Linked DNA regions of Homo sapiens: region 1 is linked to region 2. The links come from fine-mapping of genetic effects on gene expression. Tissue or cell type: thyroid. Region 2 holds a variant in brackets; the other region holds the start of a gene. All regions are shown on one strand. Distances are between the middles of the regions.

What was found. PIP is the estimated chance that this variant, and not a neighbour inherited with it, causes the effect.
Region 1: RPS6 starts here. The variant in region 2 is fine-mapped to the expression of RPS6 in thyroid (GTEx, PIP 0.97).

The regions. Positions count from the first base shown.
Region 1 is chr9:19,376,622-19,384,713 of GRCh38, forward strand. It overlaps RPS6 (ribosomal protein S6), which reads right to left and starts at 3,615. Exons shown (of 6, transcript NM_001010.3): 1 at 3,569-3,615; 2 at 2,866-2,997; 3 at 2,087-2,297; 4 at 1,747-1,893; 5 at 1-30. The coding sequence starts at 3,574. It also overlaps the pseudogene NDUFA5P3. RefSeq lists an enhancer at 2,930-4,129.
Region 2 is chr9:19,238,902-19,247,008 of GRCh38, forward strand. All of the region lies in intron 1 of DENND4C (DENN domain containing 4C), which reads left to right. Among named protein-coding and RNA genes, the nearest start is that of DENND4C, 12 kb to the left of the region's middle. The variant T/A (reference allele first, on the strand shown) is at 3,971.

The DNA.
Region 1 (8,092 bases), 140 kb after region 2:
TCTTGGGTGCTTTGGTCCTAGGTTTCTTACCTAAAAATTCAAAGGACTCAATCATTTCAATATTTGTTTTGTTAGAATCCACATCTACTTTAAAAACATCAGAAATAAACGTAAGCTTAACAGCATCTATGAAAACCTATAATGAGGCCTTTAAAATCAAATCAGAACTATTCTAAAATGCTTTTTGCCCCTCCACAGAAATCTAGAAGATTGGTTAAATATTATAAAAATATAAGGGAAACCAAGTCCTGAAAAATAACCAGGCTAACTTTTACTACCTTCCAGTTTTACTAAAATACAGTGGCATTATGTTAATATATAACTGTGCATAGTTAATTTGTCTGTGAAAACCACTTAACACATTATCTACATAATCATCCTGCCATACTTTTAAATTTGATGTAAGCTTGCATCTCTATTTCCTTTGACAATTCCTGCCAATTCAGGGGTAACGTTAACTATTAACATCAGATTAGGTGGCATGTTGTTAAAGTATCTTCATTAATCTGATCTGTACTCCAAAACTGCTCATGGATTACAGATCTGCATTGGAGCATAGGCCTTTTCAGATGTATTTGTTTCATGGACACTTTGTAGGAGTTAACTGCCTTAGGCTAAATGCTCAGATGTTCAGATTCTGCTAAAATGTTAAGCCTCCTACTATAGACATAAGAACCATCTAAAAATACCCATCAACCAGACCACGCTTGTATTATACGGATTATTTCCAGGGCTATGATTATGGGCAACTGCCACCTATTTGTCAATTGCTTTTTTTTTTTTTTTTGCAACATCAGCTTCATAAGGGTAGGAATTTGTCTATACTGTATTCTCAGCACCTTGAACAGTACCTGTGCTCAAGTAAGTGTAATTACTGACTTAACAGACGTATACTATCTATGCCATGTATGTTAAGTCACACCAGTCCTGAAAACCAAAATCCAGAGAAATTCTTTCAAATTTTGTCAGGAAAACCCAACCTTGACTGACATGCTGTTTATTTAACATAAATATCCCCAAATTTCACCACAGAAATATTGCTATTTGAGGTCCTCACTGGTGAGTATGTTGTCTACTATATGGACAAAAGTTCTTAAAAGGTAAAGCTCCAAAATCCCTAACACCTGCTCCCTAGTATTCTGAGTAAGGTCTCTAACTTCTAATTCTCACAACTCTTAACTATTGTTATCCATATCCTACAGATGAAACAGAAGTTTAAAGCAACTTCTTTTGTAAGCCAAAAAATAATTTTGGGCTGGGTGTGGTGGCTCACGCCCATAATCCCAGCACTTTGGGAAGCCAAAGTGGGAGCATCACTTGAGCTCAAGGGTTCAAGACCAGCCTGGGCAACAGTGTGACCTCATCTCTTAAAAAATATTAATAATTTAGAACATCTGATATAAAATTACAAAGTGTGTGGTGCTAATAGTCCCAGAATTCTCAAACATGTGACTCCTAAACCAGATAGCAATGACCTTAAAGTCAGGTTATTTTTGGATAATGTATACATCAAAGATTCACAAGCAGATTTTCAACGAAATTACTGCACTCTACAAGGCACTGGATATAATAAGCAAGGATTAACACCAACTGGGTATGCTGGCCACCCCCAAATATTTTCTGTAAAAACTCCAAGTGAATAGTGCTAAGGCCTTCCAAAGGCACATATTTATCTTCTGATATGCACACAAAATGATAGACAAATTACCAAAATTAAGCAAGCCCTAATTGCATAATCCCTCCTACCTTCTTTATTTAAGGGCTTTCTTACAACATACTGGCGGACATCATCTTCTTTAGAGAGATTGAAAAGTTTGCGGATTCTGCTAGCTCTTTTGGGGCCCAGGCGGCGAGGCACTGTAGTATCAGTCAGTCCAGGAATATCCTTCTCTCCTTAGAAGAAACAGTTGAAGAGATTTTAATTCAACAACTTCCTTAAGAATCCTAAATCAGAATGTTTAATGTTGAATTGATGGTAGAGAAACAAATCCATTGGTCTGTAAGTCTGGATACTGCAAATGAATAAGCATTTGGACAACTGGCTTTAAATCAATTTCAACGAAAATTGAACACAAGTAACCCTCACCTTTTTTTACAATAACCAAGTTGAGAACGCTCAGATTTGCATCCACAATGCAACCACGAACTGATTTTCTCTTTCTTTCTCCAGTTCTCCTTGGTCTGTAACAGGAATGCCCCTTACTCAGTAGCAGGCGGACACGGCCATGGGTCAAGACACCCTGCTTCATGGGGAAACCTTGTTTGTCGTTCCCACCACTGATTCGGACCACATAACCCTGCAAGAGCATACAATGAATGACACATTTACTATTTCTATTCCAAAATTATACAGTACAGGATTGTGACCTCTGTGAACACACCTATATGAGAAAGTATAATTATGAAAACCAATTTGAACTTAAGCACGTTTTCTCTGTTCAGTGAGTTTTGTCTATATTCCCAACTTGTCAAGTTCAATTATCAAATGTCTTTCAAGTCGCATTTCTAACCGATGTTTTATTAGAGATAACAGCACTAAGAAGATAAAATATCAAACAGCAACAAACAAATCAGATACAACCCTTTTTGGCACTTTGGGGATTATGAGGACAGCTATGTGACATATTGCCAAATGCATGATGCAGGGCAAGAATTATGTTGATGTAAACTTTACGTATATTTTATGGCTTACTCTACGTCCCCCCCTCCAAGGTAATACCTCTAACTTTATAAAGTGGCATTCGGAAGCAACTTACCAAAGGTCAGAAGCCAGAACCCGGAGTCTGAACCCCATTCCAAATACCAGTTACCAATGGCGTTTACCGTCTCTGACTTAAATACCTGCAACAATTTGTCAACTTTTACCTTCCATTCTTCACCCAGAGCGTCAGCAGCAACTTCTGTGGCCATACGCTTCTCATAGAAAGTACGAAGTTTGCGTTCATCGTCCACTTCAATGAGTTTCTGGCAGCCAGTGGCTGGGAAGGAGATGTTCAGCTAAGGATTAAAAGGGGGGAAATAGTTTACGAAACTATCTATACAGGTAATTGTAGAGCCATCTACAAAGTTAATTCCACTGCAAAAAGCCTTTCATGTTGCCTCCACACAAGCAGGAAATATAAGATGCCGACTGTACTCACTAAAAGCACGTGAAAGCAGAGTAGCAGTCAAGAAGCGCCGCACTCAGCAGGACGTTTTCCCCTCAAGCCCCGCGGAATGACTCTGGGGGCGAGGGCACTCCGCAGCCGTTCACCCTCCCGAAGCAAGAAAGCCGGGGTCAAGAGCCGCACCACAGGCCTGCCGCAAACTGGGCAACACGCCGCATCCGTCCCGGCTGGGCGCGGGGACGCCACCATGGCGCTCCCGGCCCGCCGCGGCTCCAGCCGCAATCGCCTGCCATCCGTTCGGCCAAAAAGCTCCATGCCCCAGAAAGGCGAGCCTTCTCCTACTTGAGACCCTTCTCCACCTAAAGCCAGGATCCTGGAGTGCTGGAACTGAGGCAATGCCGCGTTCTGGGACTCGATTCACGTTCCCCAAACCCAGTCTAACACTCGCCACCATCACCTACCTTCATCTTGAAGCAGCTGAACGCCTCCGAGGCGCCACGGAAAAGAGGGCCAACTTCCGCTTAGCGCAGGTCACATAGGCGCTTTCAGTTCTCGCGAGATGAGCAGAAGTACGGGATAGCGGAAGTGAGCATGGGTGGGCGGTACTTCCGGGCGAGATTAATCAGGGCCTGGGAGGTAAAGTCGGTTGGGTGTGGGTCTGAGGTTGTGCCAGTGGTGGTAGTCTGGTAAGGCAAACCCGCGTGTAATTCTGAGGGCTAACCCCTTCCCTGTCTAGTCTTTTCCACGCTGCCTGGGTTTTGGAGCTGGGCGCCAGCGGAGCCCCACTTCTGTCCCAGGCACTTTGCATCTGACGGTACCAAAATAGGAGGGCAAGGCCGGGCGCGGTGGCTCACGCCTGTAATCCCAGCACTTTGGGAGGCCGAGGCGGGCGGATCATCTTAGGTCAGGAGTTCGAGACCAGCCTGGCCAACATGGCGAAACTCCGTCTCTAATAAAAATAGGTAAAATAGCCAAAAATAGGTAAAATAGCCAGGCGTGGTGGGGGGCGACTGTAGTCCCAGTTACTAGGGAGGCTGAGGCACGACAATCGCTTGAGCCCAAGAGGCGGAGGTTGCAATGAGTCCAGATCGCACCACTGCACTGCAGCCCAGGCGACAGAGAGAGACTCCGCCTCAAAAAAGTTCGAGTTCGAGACCAAGTAAACAAGAATAATTTTTACTATCTAAAACTATCACATACCATCTCCCCACTTTAGTGTCACAAAGGTTTGAGTTTAGGACTGTTTTACATTCGAAGTTGAACGATTCTACTGAATCCTCTTTGATCATCTCACATTAATTCATGGAATCTTGGTGAAATGATGCTTTTTAAAATCTGAGTACTGTGTGTCATTTTTTTGTTGAGGTGAAATTGACATAACTAGTCATTTTAAAGTGAACAATTCAGTGGCATTTAGTACATTCACAATGCTGTACAACCACCATCTCTATCGATACAGTTCCAAAACATTTTCATCATCCTAAAAGAAAACCCTGTACCCTGTTAAAGCAGTTGCTGCCCCTTCCCCATTTCGACCAGGCCTGGCAACCACCAATCTGTGTTCTGTCTCAGTGGATGTACCTACTTCATAAAAATGGAATCATACAATATTGACCTTTTGTATCTGTCTTCTAATCTTTTGAGTCGTAGCATGTATCAGTACTTCACTGCTTTTATGGCTCAATATTCTAGTGTAGATATAGACTGCAGTTTGTTTATCCATTCCTCCATAAATAGACATTTGGGTTGTTTCTGCCTTTTAACTACTGTAAATAGTTCTTCTATGTTTGAGTACTTGTTTTAAATTATTTTAGGTATATACCTAAGAGTGAAATTGCTGGGTCATATAGTAGTTCTATTCTCAACTCAGGGAGAAACTGAAACTGTATTCCAAAGCAGCTGAACCATTTTACATTCCCACCGGCAATGTATGAGGACCGCACTTTATCAAAATCATGGCCAACACTTGTTATTTTTTTAATTTTTTAAAAATTTATTGTAGGGACAGGGTCTCGCTTTGTTGCTCAAAGTGAGATCCTGTTGGTCTGGAACTCTTGGCCTCCAGCATCCTCCTGTCTCAGCCTCTGGAGTAGCTGAGACTCATTGTGGTTTTGATTTGCATTTCCCTAATGACTAATGATGTTGAGCATGTTTTAATGTGTTTGTTGGCCATTTGTATATCTTCTTTAGAGAAAAGTCTGTACAAGCTCTTAGCTCCCCCTGTTATTTTTATTGAAGTAGTGGGAGTAAATTAATGTGAGGCAAAGAGAAAGTCTAGAACTATGGGCTAGTTTTTTTTGTTTGTTTTTCCTTTTAAAAATATTTTAGGGTGGCCAAATGCAGTGGCTCACACCAGTAATCCAGACGCTTTAGGACGCTGAGATGGGAGGATCTCTTGAGGCCAGGAGTTTGAGATCAGCCTGGGCAAACATAGTGTCACCCTGTCTCATTTAAAAAAAAATTTTAATGCGTTTTTAATTGTGGGTAAAAAACATATAACACAAAATGTATCATCTTAACCATTTTGAAGTGTACACTTCTGTAATGTTAAATATATTAACATTGTTGTAAAATAGATCTCCAGAACTTTTTCATCTTGCGAAATGGGAACTTCATACTCATTAAACAACTCCTTTCCCCCTACCCACGGCTTTTGGTAACCATTCTACTTTCTGTCTCTATGATTTTCACTAAGCATCTCATATAAATGGAATCAAACAGTAGTAGTTGTCTTTTTGTGACTGGCTTATGTCATTTAACATAATGTTCTCAAGGTTCATCCATGTTATAGCATGTGACAGGATTTCCTTCTCTTTTAAGGCTGAATAATACTCTGTTGCATGTATATACTACATTTTGTTTAACCATTCGTCTGTCAATGGACATTTTGGTTGTTTCCACCTCTTGGCTGTTGTAAATAATGCTGATATGAACATGGGTGTGCAAATATCTCTTAGAGACAGACCCTGTTTTCAATTCTTTTGGCTATCTATCCAGAAGTGGGACTGCTGGATCACGTTAGTTCTATTTTGAATTTTTTGAGGAACCTCTATACTGTTTTACATATGGCTGTACCAATTTACAGTCCCACCAACAGTACACAAGGGTTCTTTGCCTTTTTTTTTTTTTTTTTTTTTTGAGATGGAGTCTTGCTCTGTCGCCCAGGCTGGAGTGCAATGGCACGATCTCGGCTCGCTGCAACCTCTGCCTCCCGGGTTCAAGCGATTCTCCCGCCACAGCCTCCTGAGTAGCTGGGATTACAGGTGCGTGCCACCATGCCTGGCTAATTTTTGTATTTTTAGTAGAGATGGGGTTTCACCATGTTGGCCAGGATGGTCTCAAACTCCTGACCTCAAATGATCCTTCTGCCTTGCCTCCCAAAGTGCTGGGATTACAGGTGTGAGCCACTGCACCTGGCCCACACTCTTAATATAACAGAATATTTAATTACATCAGTTTCCCATCAACCTACCAAAGTCATTTAATAATTATATTGGCCATTTCCACTGATTGGCAGGAGTCTCTCCCATGGTTTCCACTGCATCATTTTTCTTGCCAGACTTAGTTCATTTTTAGCCTGCAGAATCGCCTCTTCTATTTGACCACCTTGAAGTTGGTCTTCTGATTTTTTATTTTTATTTAATTAATTAATTAATTAATTTTTGAGACAGAGTCTCACTCTGTTGCCCAGGCTGAAGTGCAGTAGCATGATCTCGGCTCACTGCAACCTCCACCTCCTGGGTTCAAGCGATTCTCCTGCCTCAGCCTCCCAAGTAGCCAGGACTACAGGCATGCACCACCATGCCCGGCTAATTTTTGTATTTTTAGTAGAGACAGGGTTTCGGCATGTTGGCCAGGCTGGTCTCAAACTCCTGACCTCAGGTGATCCGCCTGCCTTGGCCTCCCAATGTGCTGGGATTACAGGAGTGAGCCACTGCGCCCGGCTGGTCTTCTAATTTTTTAACATCTGGTTCTGCTTTAACCATAGCCAGTGTCTCATTTGTAATCTGTTCTGTATACTTTCTATATGCTACATTTTTAGGGATTTGCTCAAGAACATAAAAAAATCTTTGTATACAATATTCTTAGCCTCTCCTGTGGACTCTCGCATACAGCCAATCCCACAAGGCCAGTGGTCTCTCTTCAGCACACCCGTCATGACTCTGGCTAATTGAGAAAAAAAAAAAAAGATTTGTGTGTGTGTGTGTGTGTGTGTGTGTGTGTGTGTGTGTGCGTGCGCGTGTGTGTGTAGAGATAAGGGCTCCATATGTTGCCCAGGCTGGTCTTGAATTCCTGGCCTTGAGTGATCCTCCTGCCTCAGCCTCCCAAAGCATTTGTCCATTTTAAAATCGGGTTTTTTAATATATATTCAGGAGACTAAACTCTTATTAGATACGTGATGTGCAAATATTTTCTCCCATTCTGTAGACTTTTCGCTTTCTTAATAATGTTACAGTTTTTAATTTTAAAGCCCAATTTATATAATTTAAAAATTGTTGTAGATCATGCTTTTGGTTTCATTTAAAAATACGTTGCCAAATCCAGTGTCATAAAGTTTACCCCTATGTTTTAAAATCTAATCTTAAAGACTTACCCTATGTTATGGTCTTAGTTTTTATATTTAGGTTATTGATCCGTTTTGAGTTTATTCTTAAATAATTGTGTGAGGTTGGGACTCCAGCTTAATTATTTTGCAGATAGATGTCCAGTTGTTCCAGCACTATTTGTTGAAGAGACTATTCATCCCTCATCGAATGGTCTTGACACTCTTGTTGAAAATTAATTGCCATAAATTTATAGGTTTATTTCTGGACTGTCACTTCTATTTCCATGGTCCATGTGCCTATCCTTATGCCAGTGCTATAGCTTTGTAGCAAGCATCAAAATAAGGAAGTAAGAGTACTCCAACTTTGTTTTTTTTCAAGATGGGTTTAGTTCTTAAGGATCCTTTTCAATTGCACATGAATTTTAGCATCAGCTTGTTC
Region 2 (8,107 bases):
CTCGGCCTCCCAAAGTGCTGGGATTGCAGGCAGGAGCCACCTTGCCTAGCCTATAATATTCCTTTGTTCTTTTTTTAATGTCTAGAGGACCTGTAACGATATGCCTTCTATCATTGCTCATATTGGTAATTCCAGCCTCTTGCTTTTTTCTTAATCTACAGATACTGATATTTATTGTTTCTTGTTTATTTTAAATTTTATTGATTTCTGCATTTTATGTTTTTTCCCTCTACTTCCCCTTGATTTAGTCTGCTTTTTTTCCCCGAGCGTCTTGAGGTGGACATTTATGTCTTTAATTTTAGAACTCTCTTATTTTCTAATACAGGTGCTTAAAGCTATGAATTTCCTTCTAAATACTGTTTTAGCCACATCTCATAAATTGATTTCTTCTTTTCATTCAGTTCAAAATATTGTTTAATTTCTTTTGCAGTTTCTTTTTTGATCAGGGGTTATTTAGGAGACTATTATTTAATTTCTAAATACTGGAGAATTTTATATAGTATCTTTATGTTAATGATCTCAAGTTTAATTCCATTGTAGTCAGAGAACATGCTGCATAATTTATATTCTTTTTTTTTTTTAAGATGGAGTCTCGCTGTGTCACCCAGGCTGGAGTGCAGTGGCACTCCCCATCTCTACTAAAAATACAAAAGTTACTCACTGCAACCTCCACCTCCCAGATTCAAGCAGTTCTCCTGTCTCAGCCTCCCGAGTAGCTGGGATTACAAGCGCACACCACCATGCCCGGCTAATTTTTGTGTTTTTAGTAGAGATGGGGTTTCATCGTGTTGGCCAGGCTAGTCTTGAACTCTTGACCTGAGGTGTACGCCTGCCTTGGCCTCCCAAAGTACTGTGATTACAGGCGTGAGCCACCGTGCCCAGCCAATTTATATTCTTTAAAATATTTCCATGCTTGTTTTACGGTCCAGCATATGGTTTATCTTGGTGAATGTTCTATGTGTGCTTGAAAAGATGGTTTATCTTGCTGTTGTTGGGTGCAGTGTTCTATAAATAACAATTATGTCAAGTTGGTTGATAATGTTCTTCAGATCTTACATATTTTTAATAATTTTCTGTTTACTTGTTCTGTGAATTATTGCATCAGTGAGGAGTGTTGAACTCCCTGTGATTGTGGAGCTGTTTATTTCTCCTTTCAGGTATGTCAGTTTTTGCTGCATGCACTTTGATACTCTCTTGTTAGATGTACACAGTCATAAGTAATTTAACTAGGGGGATACATTCTGAGGAATGCATCATTGGGCAATTTCTTTATTGTGCAAGCATCATATAGTGTACTTACATGATCCTAGATGGTGTAGCATGCTACTCTTGTAGGCTATAGCCTATAGCCTATTGCTTCTAGGCTACAAACCTGTACAGCATATTACTGTACTGATACTCTAGGCAGCTATAGCATAATGGTGAATATTTGTGTATCTAAACATAGAAAAGATACAATAAAAATACGGTATAAAAGGGCCGGGAACCAGGCACAGTGGCTCACACTTGTAATCCCAGCACTCTGGGAGGCTGAAGTGGGTGGATCACGAGGTCAGGAGTTCGAGACCAGCCTGGTCAACATAGTGAAACCCCATCTCTACTAAAAATACAAAAATTAGCCTGGCATAGTGGTGTGTGCCTGTAGTCCCAGCTACTTGCGAGGCTGAGGCAGGAGAATCACTTGAACCTGGGACACGGAGGTTGCAGTGAGCCGAGATCATGCCACTTCACTCCAGCTTGGGCAACAGAGTGAGATTTCATCTCAAAAAACAAAAAAAAAAAAGGCCAGGCATGGTTGCTCACACCTGTAATCCCAGCACTTTGGGAGGCTGAGGCAGGCAGATCACTTGAGGTCAGGAATTTGAGGCCTGCCTGGCCAACATGGTGAAACTGTGTCTCTACTAAAAACTCAAAAATTAGCCTGGTATGGTGGTGGACGCCTGTAATCCAAGCTATTTGGGAGGCTGAAGTAGGAGAATTGAACCCAGGAGGCAGAGGTTGCAGTGAGCCGAGATCACGCCACTGCACTCCAGCCTAGGCGACAGAGTGACAGAACACAACAGAACACAGAACAGAATGGAACGCAGAACAGAACGGAACACAGAACAGGACAGATATGAAAGATAAACGTGGTACACCTATAATAGGGCACTTACCACGAGAGGACCTTGCAGGAGTGGAAGTTGCTCTGGGCGAGTCACTGAATGAGGGGTGGTGAATGAATGTGAAGGCCTAGGATATTACTGTGCCCTACTGTACACTTTATGAACAATGTACAGTTAGGCTACACTAAATTCATCAAATTTTTTTCTTTGATCAATAGTAAATTAGCTTATTGTAACCTTTTGACTTTAGAAGCTTTAAAATGTTTGTTGTTTTTTGACTCTCGTAACAACACTTAAATACAAACGCATTTTACAGGTGTACAGAAATATTATTCTTTAAATCCTTATTCTGTAAGCTTTTTTCTATTTAAAAAATGAATTTTTTTTTTAGAGATAGAGTCTCGCTATGTTGCTTAGGCTGGCCTCCAACTCCTGGGCTCAAGTGATTCTCTGGCCTCAGCCTCCTGAGTTGCGTGCCACTGCATCTGGCCTTTTTTTTTCGTTTTTCTTTTTTTTTTTACTTTTTAAACTTTTTTGTCGGAAATGAAAACATAAGCGCACACATTAGTCTAGGGCCCACACAAGGTCAGGATTATCAATATCAGTGTCTTCTACCTTCACGTCTTGTCCTACTGGAAGGTCTTCAGGGGCAATACTCACGTGGATCTGTCTGGACTACCTCCTGAAGGAAACTGCCTGAGGCTGTTTTTAGGTAGCTTTTAAAAAACATAAGTAGAACGGTGACTCTCGCCTGTAATCTAAGCACATTGGGAGGCTGAGGTGGGACGATCGCTTGAGCTCAGGAGATTGGGACCAGCCTGGGCAACACAGTAAGACCTCATCTTAAAAAAAAAAAGTAAGTAGAAGGAGTGCACTCAAATGATGTTTAAAAGTATGACATAGGTTGGGTGTGGTGGCTCATGCTTGTAATCCCACTGCTTTGGGAATCTGAGATGGGCGGATTGCTTGAGCCCAGGAGTTTGAGACCAGCCTGGGCAACATGTATCCACCGTTAAATTATTGTGAGAAATAGTTTCACCTCCATGAGATTATTCTATTTCAGCTCTTAAGCCCTTTCTGCCTTTCCCCAAGCCCTTGGCAACTACTGTTTTGTACTATTTCTATAGTTTTGCCTTTTCTGGGATGTCTTATAATTGAAATCATATAGTATGTAGCCTTTCTGGACTAGCTTCTTTCACTTAGCAATATACATTTAAGGGTCCTTTACATCATTTTGTGGTTTGCTAGCTCATTTATTTTTATTGCTAAATAATCCATTGTATGGATATATTCCAGTTTGTTTATCCATTCACCTGTCAAAGGACATCCTTGGTTCCAGGTTTTGGTGATTACGAATAAAGCTGCTTATAATCATTGTGTGCAGGTTTTGTGTAACTATAAGTTTTTAAATCAATTTGGATAATCAAATACCTCAGCAATGTGATTGCTGGATCATATGGTAGGCCTGTATTTAGCTTTGTAAGAAACTGCCAAACTGCCTTCCAAAAGGGCTGTTTTATTTTGTATTTCCATCAGCAGTGAATGTTAGAGTTCCTGTTCGCATTTTCATTCGTATTTGGTATTGTCAGTTTTTTTGATTGTAGCTATTCTAATAGGTGTGGATTGGTATCTCATTGCTATTTCTTTCTTTTTTTTTTTTTGTTTTTGAGACGGAGTCTCCATTTGTTAACCAGGCTGGAGTGCAATGGCGAGATCTCGGCTCACTGCAACCTCTGCCTCCTGGGTTGAAGTGATTGTCCTGCCTCAGCCTTCTGAGTAGCTGGGACTATAGGCGCATGCCACCATGCCCGGCCATTTTTTGTATTTTTAGTAGAGATGGGGTTTCACCATGTTGGCTAGGCTAG[T/A]CTCGATCTCCTGACCTCATGATCCACCTGCCTCAGCTTCCCAAAGTGCTGGGATTACAGGTGTAAGCCACCATGCCTGGCCTAAGTTTTTCCTTTTTAAAGTTAGCTTTATTGAGATATAATTTACACACCATAAAATTCACCAATTTAAAGGGGGGTATCTTGATGTTTTCCAGTAGATTTACAGTTTTGCAATCATTAGCATAATCTAATTTTAAAGGATTTTAATCACCCCAGAAAGAACCATTGTATACATTAGCAGTCACTCTCCAATCCCTCTCTCCTGGACCCCTAGCCCTAGATAACCACTAATTTATTTTCTGACTTTATAGATTTACCTATTTTGGACATTTCATAGAAATGAAGTCATACAATATGTGATCTTTTGTAACTGGCTTCTTTCATTTAGGATAGTGTTTTTCAGGTTCACCTATGTTGTAGTATGTATCACTCCTTCATTCCTTTTTTAAAAAATTCTGACAAAATTAACATAACATGAAATTTGCCATTTTAACCACTTAAAATATGTAATTCAGTGGTGTTCGGCACATTCACAATGTCATGCAAGTATTACCACAAACTAAATGTTCCCAAACGTTTTCATCATCCTAAAAGGAAACGCTGTACCCGTTAAGCAGTCTCTCCCCATTCCCAGTCTCCTAGTCCCTGCTGCCCAGTAATCTGTTTTCTCTCTCTGTGGATTTGCCTATTGTGGATATTCCTACAAGTGGACTTAGGCAATGTGTGACCTTTTGTGTCCAGCTTCTTCGACTTAGCATAATGCTTTCTAGGTCCAGTAGTACTTCATTCCTTTTTATGGCTGAATAATACTACGTTCTATAGAAACACCACATTTTGTTTATCATGACTTGATAGGCATTTACATTGCTTCTACCTTTTGGCTATTCTGAGTAGTGCTGCTATGAATATTTACATACAGATTTTTTTGTTTGTTTTTGAGACGAAGTCTAGCTCTGTCACCCAGACTGGAGTACAGTGGCACAGTCGTCGCTCACTGCAGCCTCGACCTTCCAGGCTCAATTATCTTCCTGCCTTAGCCTCCTGAGTAGCTGGGACTGTGGGTTTGCACCACCACATCTGGGTAATTTTTAAAAATTTTTTTGTATAGTCAGGGTCTTACTGTGTTGTCCAGGCTGGTCTTTTTTCTTCTTTTTTTGAGATGGAGTCTTACTCTGCCGCCCAGGCTGAAGTGCAGTGGCGCAATCTCGGCTCACTGCCGCCTCCGCCTCCCGGGTTTAAGCGATTCTCCTGCCTCAGCCTCCTGAGTAGCTGGGATTACAGGTGCACACCATCACACCTGGCTAAATTTTGTATTTTGAGTAGAGATGGGATTTTGCCATGTTAGCCAGGCTGGTCTTGAACTACTGACCTCAGGTCATCCACCCACCTTGGCCTCCCAAAGTGCTGGGATTACAGGCGTGAGCCTTCTCGCCTGGCCTGCTTGTTTTTAATTTGTCCTATCTCTTGTTTGTTCCTTTTTGGATTACTTGAGTATATTTTAGTATTCCATTTATCTTCACATTGGCTGATTAGCTATATGTCTTGATTTTTAAAAGTAGTTGCCTTGGCCGGGCGTGGTGGCTCACACCTGTAATCCCAGCACTTTGGGAGGCTGAGGCGGGAGGAGCATGAGGTCAAGAGATCGAGACCATCCTGGCTAACACAGTGAAACCCCATCTGTCCTAAAAATACAAAAAATTAGCCGGGCGTGGTTGCACGTGACTGTAGTCTCAGCTACTTGGGAGGCTGAGGCAGGAGAATCGCTTGAACCCGGGAGGTGGAGGTTGCAGTGAGCGGAGATCGTGCCACTGCACTCCAGCCTGGGTGACAGAGCGAGACCCCACCTCAAAAAAAAAAAAAAAAGTAGTTGCCTTAGGGTTTATAATATACACCTTTAACTTTATGTATAACCTGGGACTCTTAATTCAGTACAGTTTCGTTCTCCCCATCTGTGTCTAATTTTCCTCACAAAGGGATAATGCTAGACCTCCCTTACTGGGTTGTTATGAATATGAAATGAATTACTAGATGTGAAATACTTTGAGCACAGCTCATGTTTTTATTCATATCAAGAATAATAGAAAAAAACTTTATTAGAAGTTCTTCAGTTTGCAGATCGCAGGTTTCTTTTCTAACCTACCTTAGCTGTCTGCATGCATAATCACACCCTAGACTAGTAGTTCTCAATTCTGGCTGTATATTCTAAATGGGCAGCTTAAAAAATATTGATAGTAGTGGGCCACCTTCAGAAATTCATATTTTATTGGTCTGATTTTTTTAAAAAAGTGTTCCAGGGCCAGGTGCGGTGGCTCACGCCTGTAATCCCAGCACTTTGGGAGGCCGAGGCGGGCAGATCACGAGGTCAGGAGATCGAGACCATCCTGGCTAACAAGGTGAAACCCCGCCTCTACTAAAAACACAAAAATTAGCTGGGCATGGTGGGAGGCACCTGTAGTCCCAGCTACTCGGGAGGCTGAGGCAGGAGAATGGTGTGAACCCGGGAGGCGGAGCTTGCAGTGAGCCAAGATGGCGCTACTGCACTCCTGCCTGGGCGACAGAGTAAGACTCAGTCTCAAAAAAAAAAAAATGTGTTCCAGGTGGCTCCAATGTATAGTCAGGACGGAGAACCATTACCCTAGACTTTATCACCATGATCTGTAACTTAAAAAATTGTAAGCATTGGGCCGGGCGCGGTGGCTCACTCCTGTAATCCCAGCACTTTGGAAGGCCGAGGCGGGTGGATCACGAAGTCAGGGGTTCGAGATTAGCCTGGCCAACGTGGTGAAACCCCGTCTCTACTAAAAATACAAAAAACTAGCCAGGCGTGGTGGCATGTGCTTGTAATCCCAGCTACTCAGAAGGCTGAGGCGGGAGAATCGCTTGAACCCAGGAGGTGGAGGTTGCGGTGAGCAGAGATCATGCCATTGCACTCCAGCCTGGACGACAGAGCGAGACTCCGTCTCAAAAAAAAAAAAAAAAATTGTAAGCATCTAACTCTGACCTCCACTTCCTTTTCTACTAACTCACATACTCCAGTACCCTATTTTGATATTTCTTGGAATCCAATTTTTTTTTTATTTTTTCAGTTCTCTCACTGGACATTTCTTGGATTCCATCAAGACCTCCAGGCCAGTAGCTACGCCATTTTTTCACTGTCCATCATTCTCCTCATATATTCTCTTCTTAACTTATCCAATTATATTGATTCATTTAATAAAAATTTCAGTAAGTATTAGTGTTCTGTATGTACCATTCTGTGGTGTTGAGTGATAAAACTCTTGTTCTTCTCTTCCTTCATTGTAATCAAGGCAAAACTTCAACCCCGATTACACTCAGTTCTTTGTCAACTCTGTAATTCCTTGAACCTGAGCAGTGGAGTGTGGCTGGAGAAAACAAATACGCTAGCTCGTCTCACTTTAAATTTATGACCACACATATCTATTGTGCCTACACCATTGCTGTGTCTGCTTGTCCTTCTACTTTGTTTGCTAAGAAGACTATGTAATCTCTTTCCTTCTAGACTCTTAGCTGTTTTTTAGAAAATTATTATTATTTTTTATAATAGAGATGAGGTCTCGCTATGTCAAGCAATCCTCCCACCTTGGCTTCCCAAAGTGTTGGGATTGCAGGTGTGAGCCACTGCACTGGGCATGTTTGTTTGTTTATTTATTGATTTAAGTATTGCACATAGTGTTTTTATTCTCTGCAGCGAAAATGATTCCTACTTGCAGACCACTTTTTTTTTTTTAAGCCAACTCATCTATGTTCATCTATGTTGTGACTTCTTGTGTATTTAAGGATTTTGCTTCTGGGTTATCTTCGATATTTTTGTTTTTGTTTGTTTGTTTTATTTTTATTTTATCTAGACCTGCACATCCCCTGTATTATTTTTCCTGGCGAATCATTTTTCTTAGCATATGAACATGCTATAACTCTTAATTCTCTAACTTCAATAGGGATGGCAAAAGGAAAAAAACAAAAACAGCTCATTTCTCACACACACCTTTCCTTCTCATTTATAGCAAAATTTGTCAGAAAGAATTGCTCATTCTCAGTATCTCTACCCTCTAAGATTCCATTTTTTCCCCAACTCTTTCCAGGCTGGCTCTTTTGCAC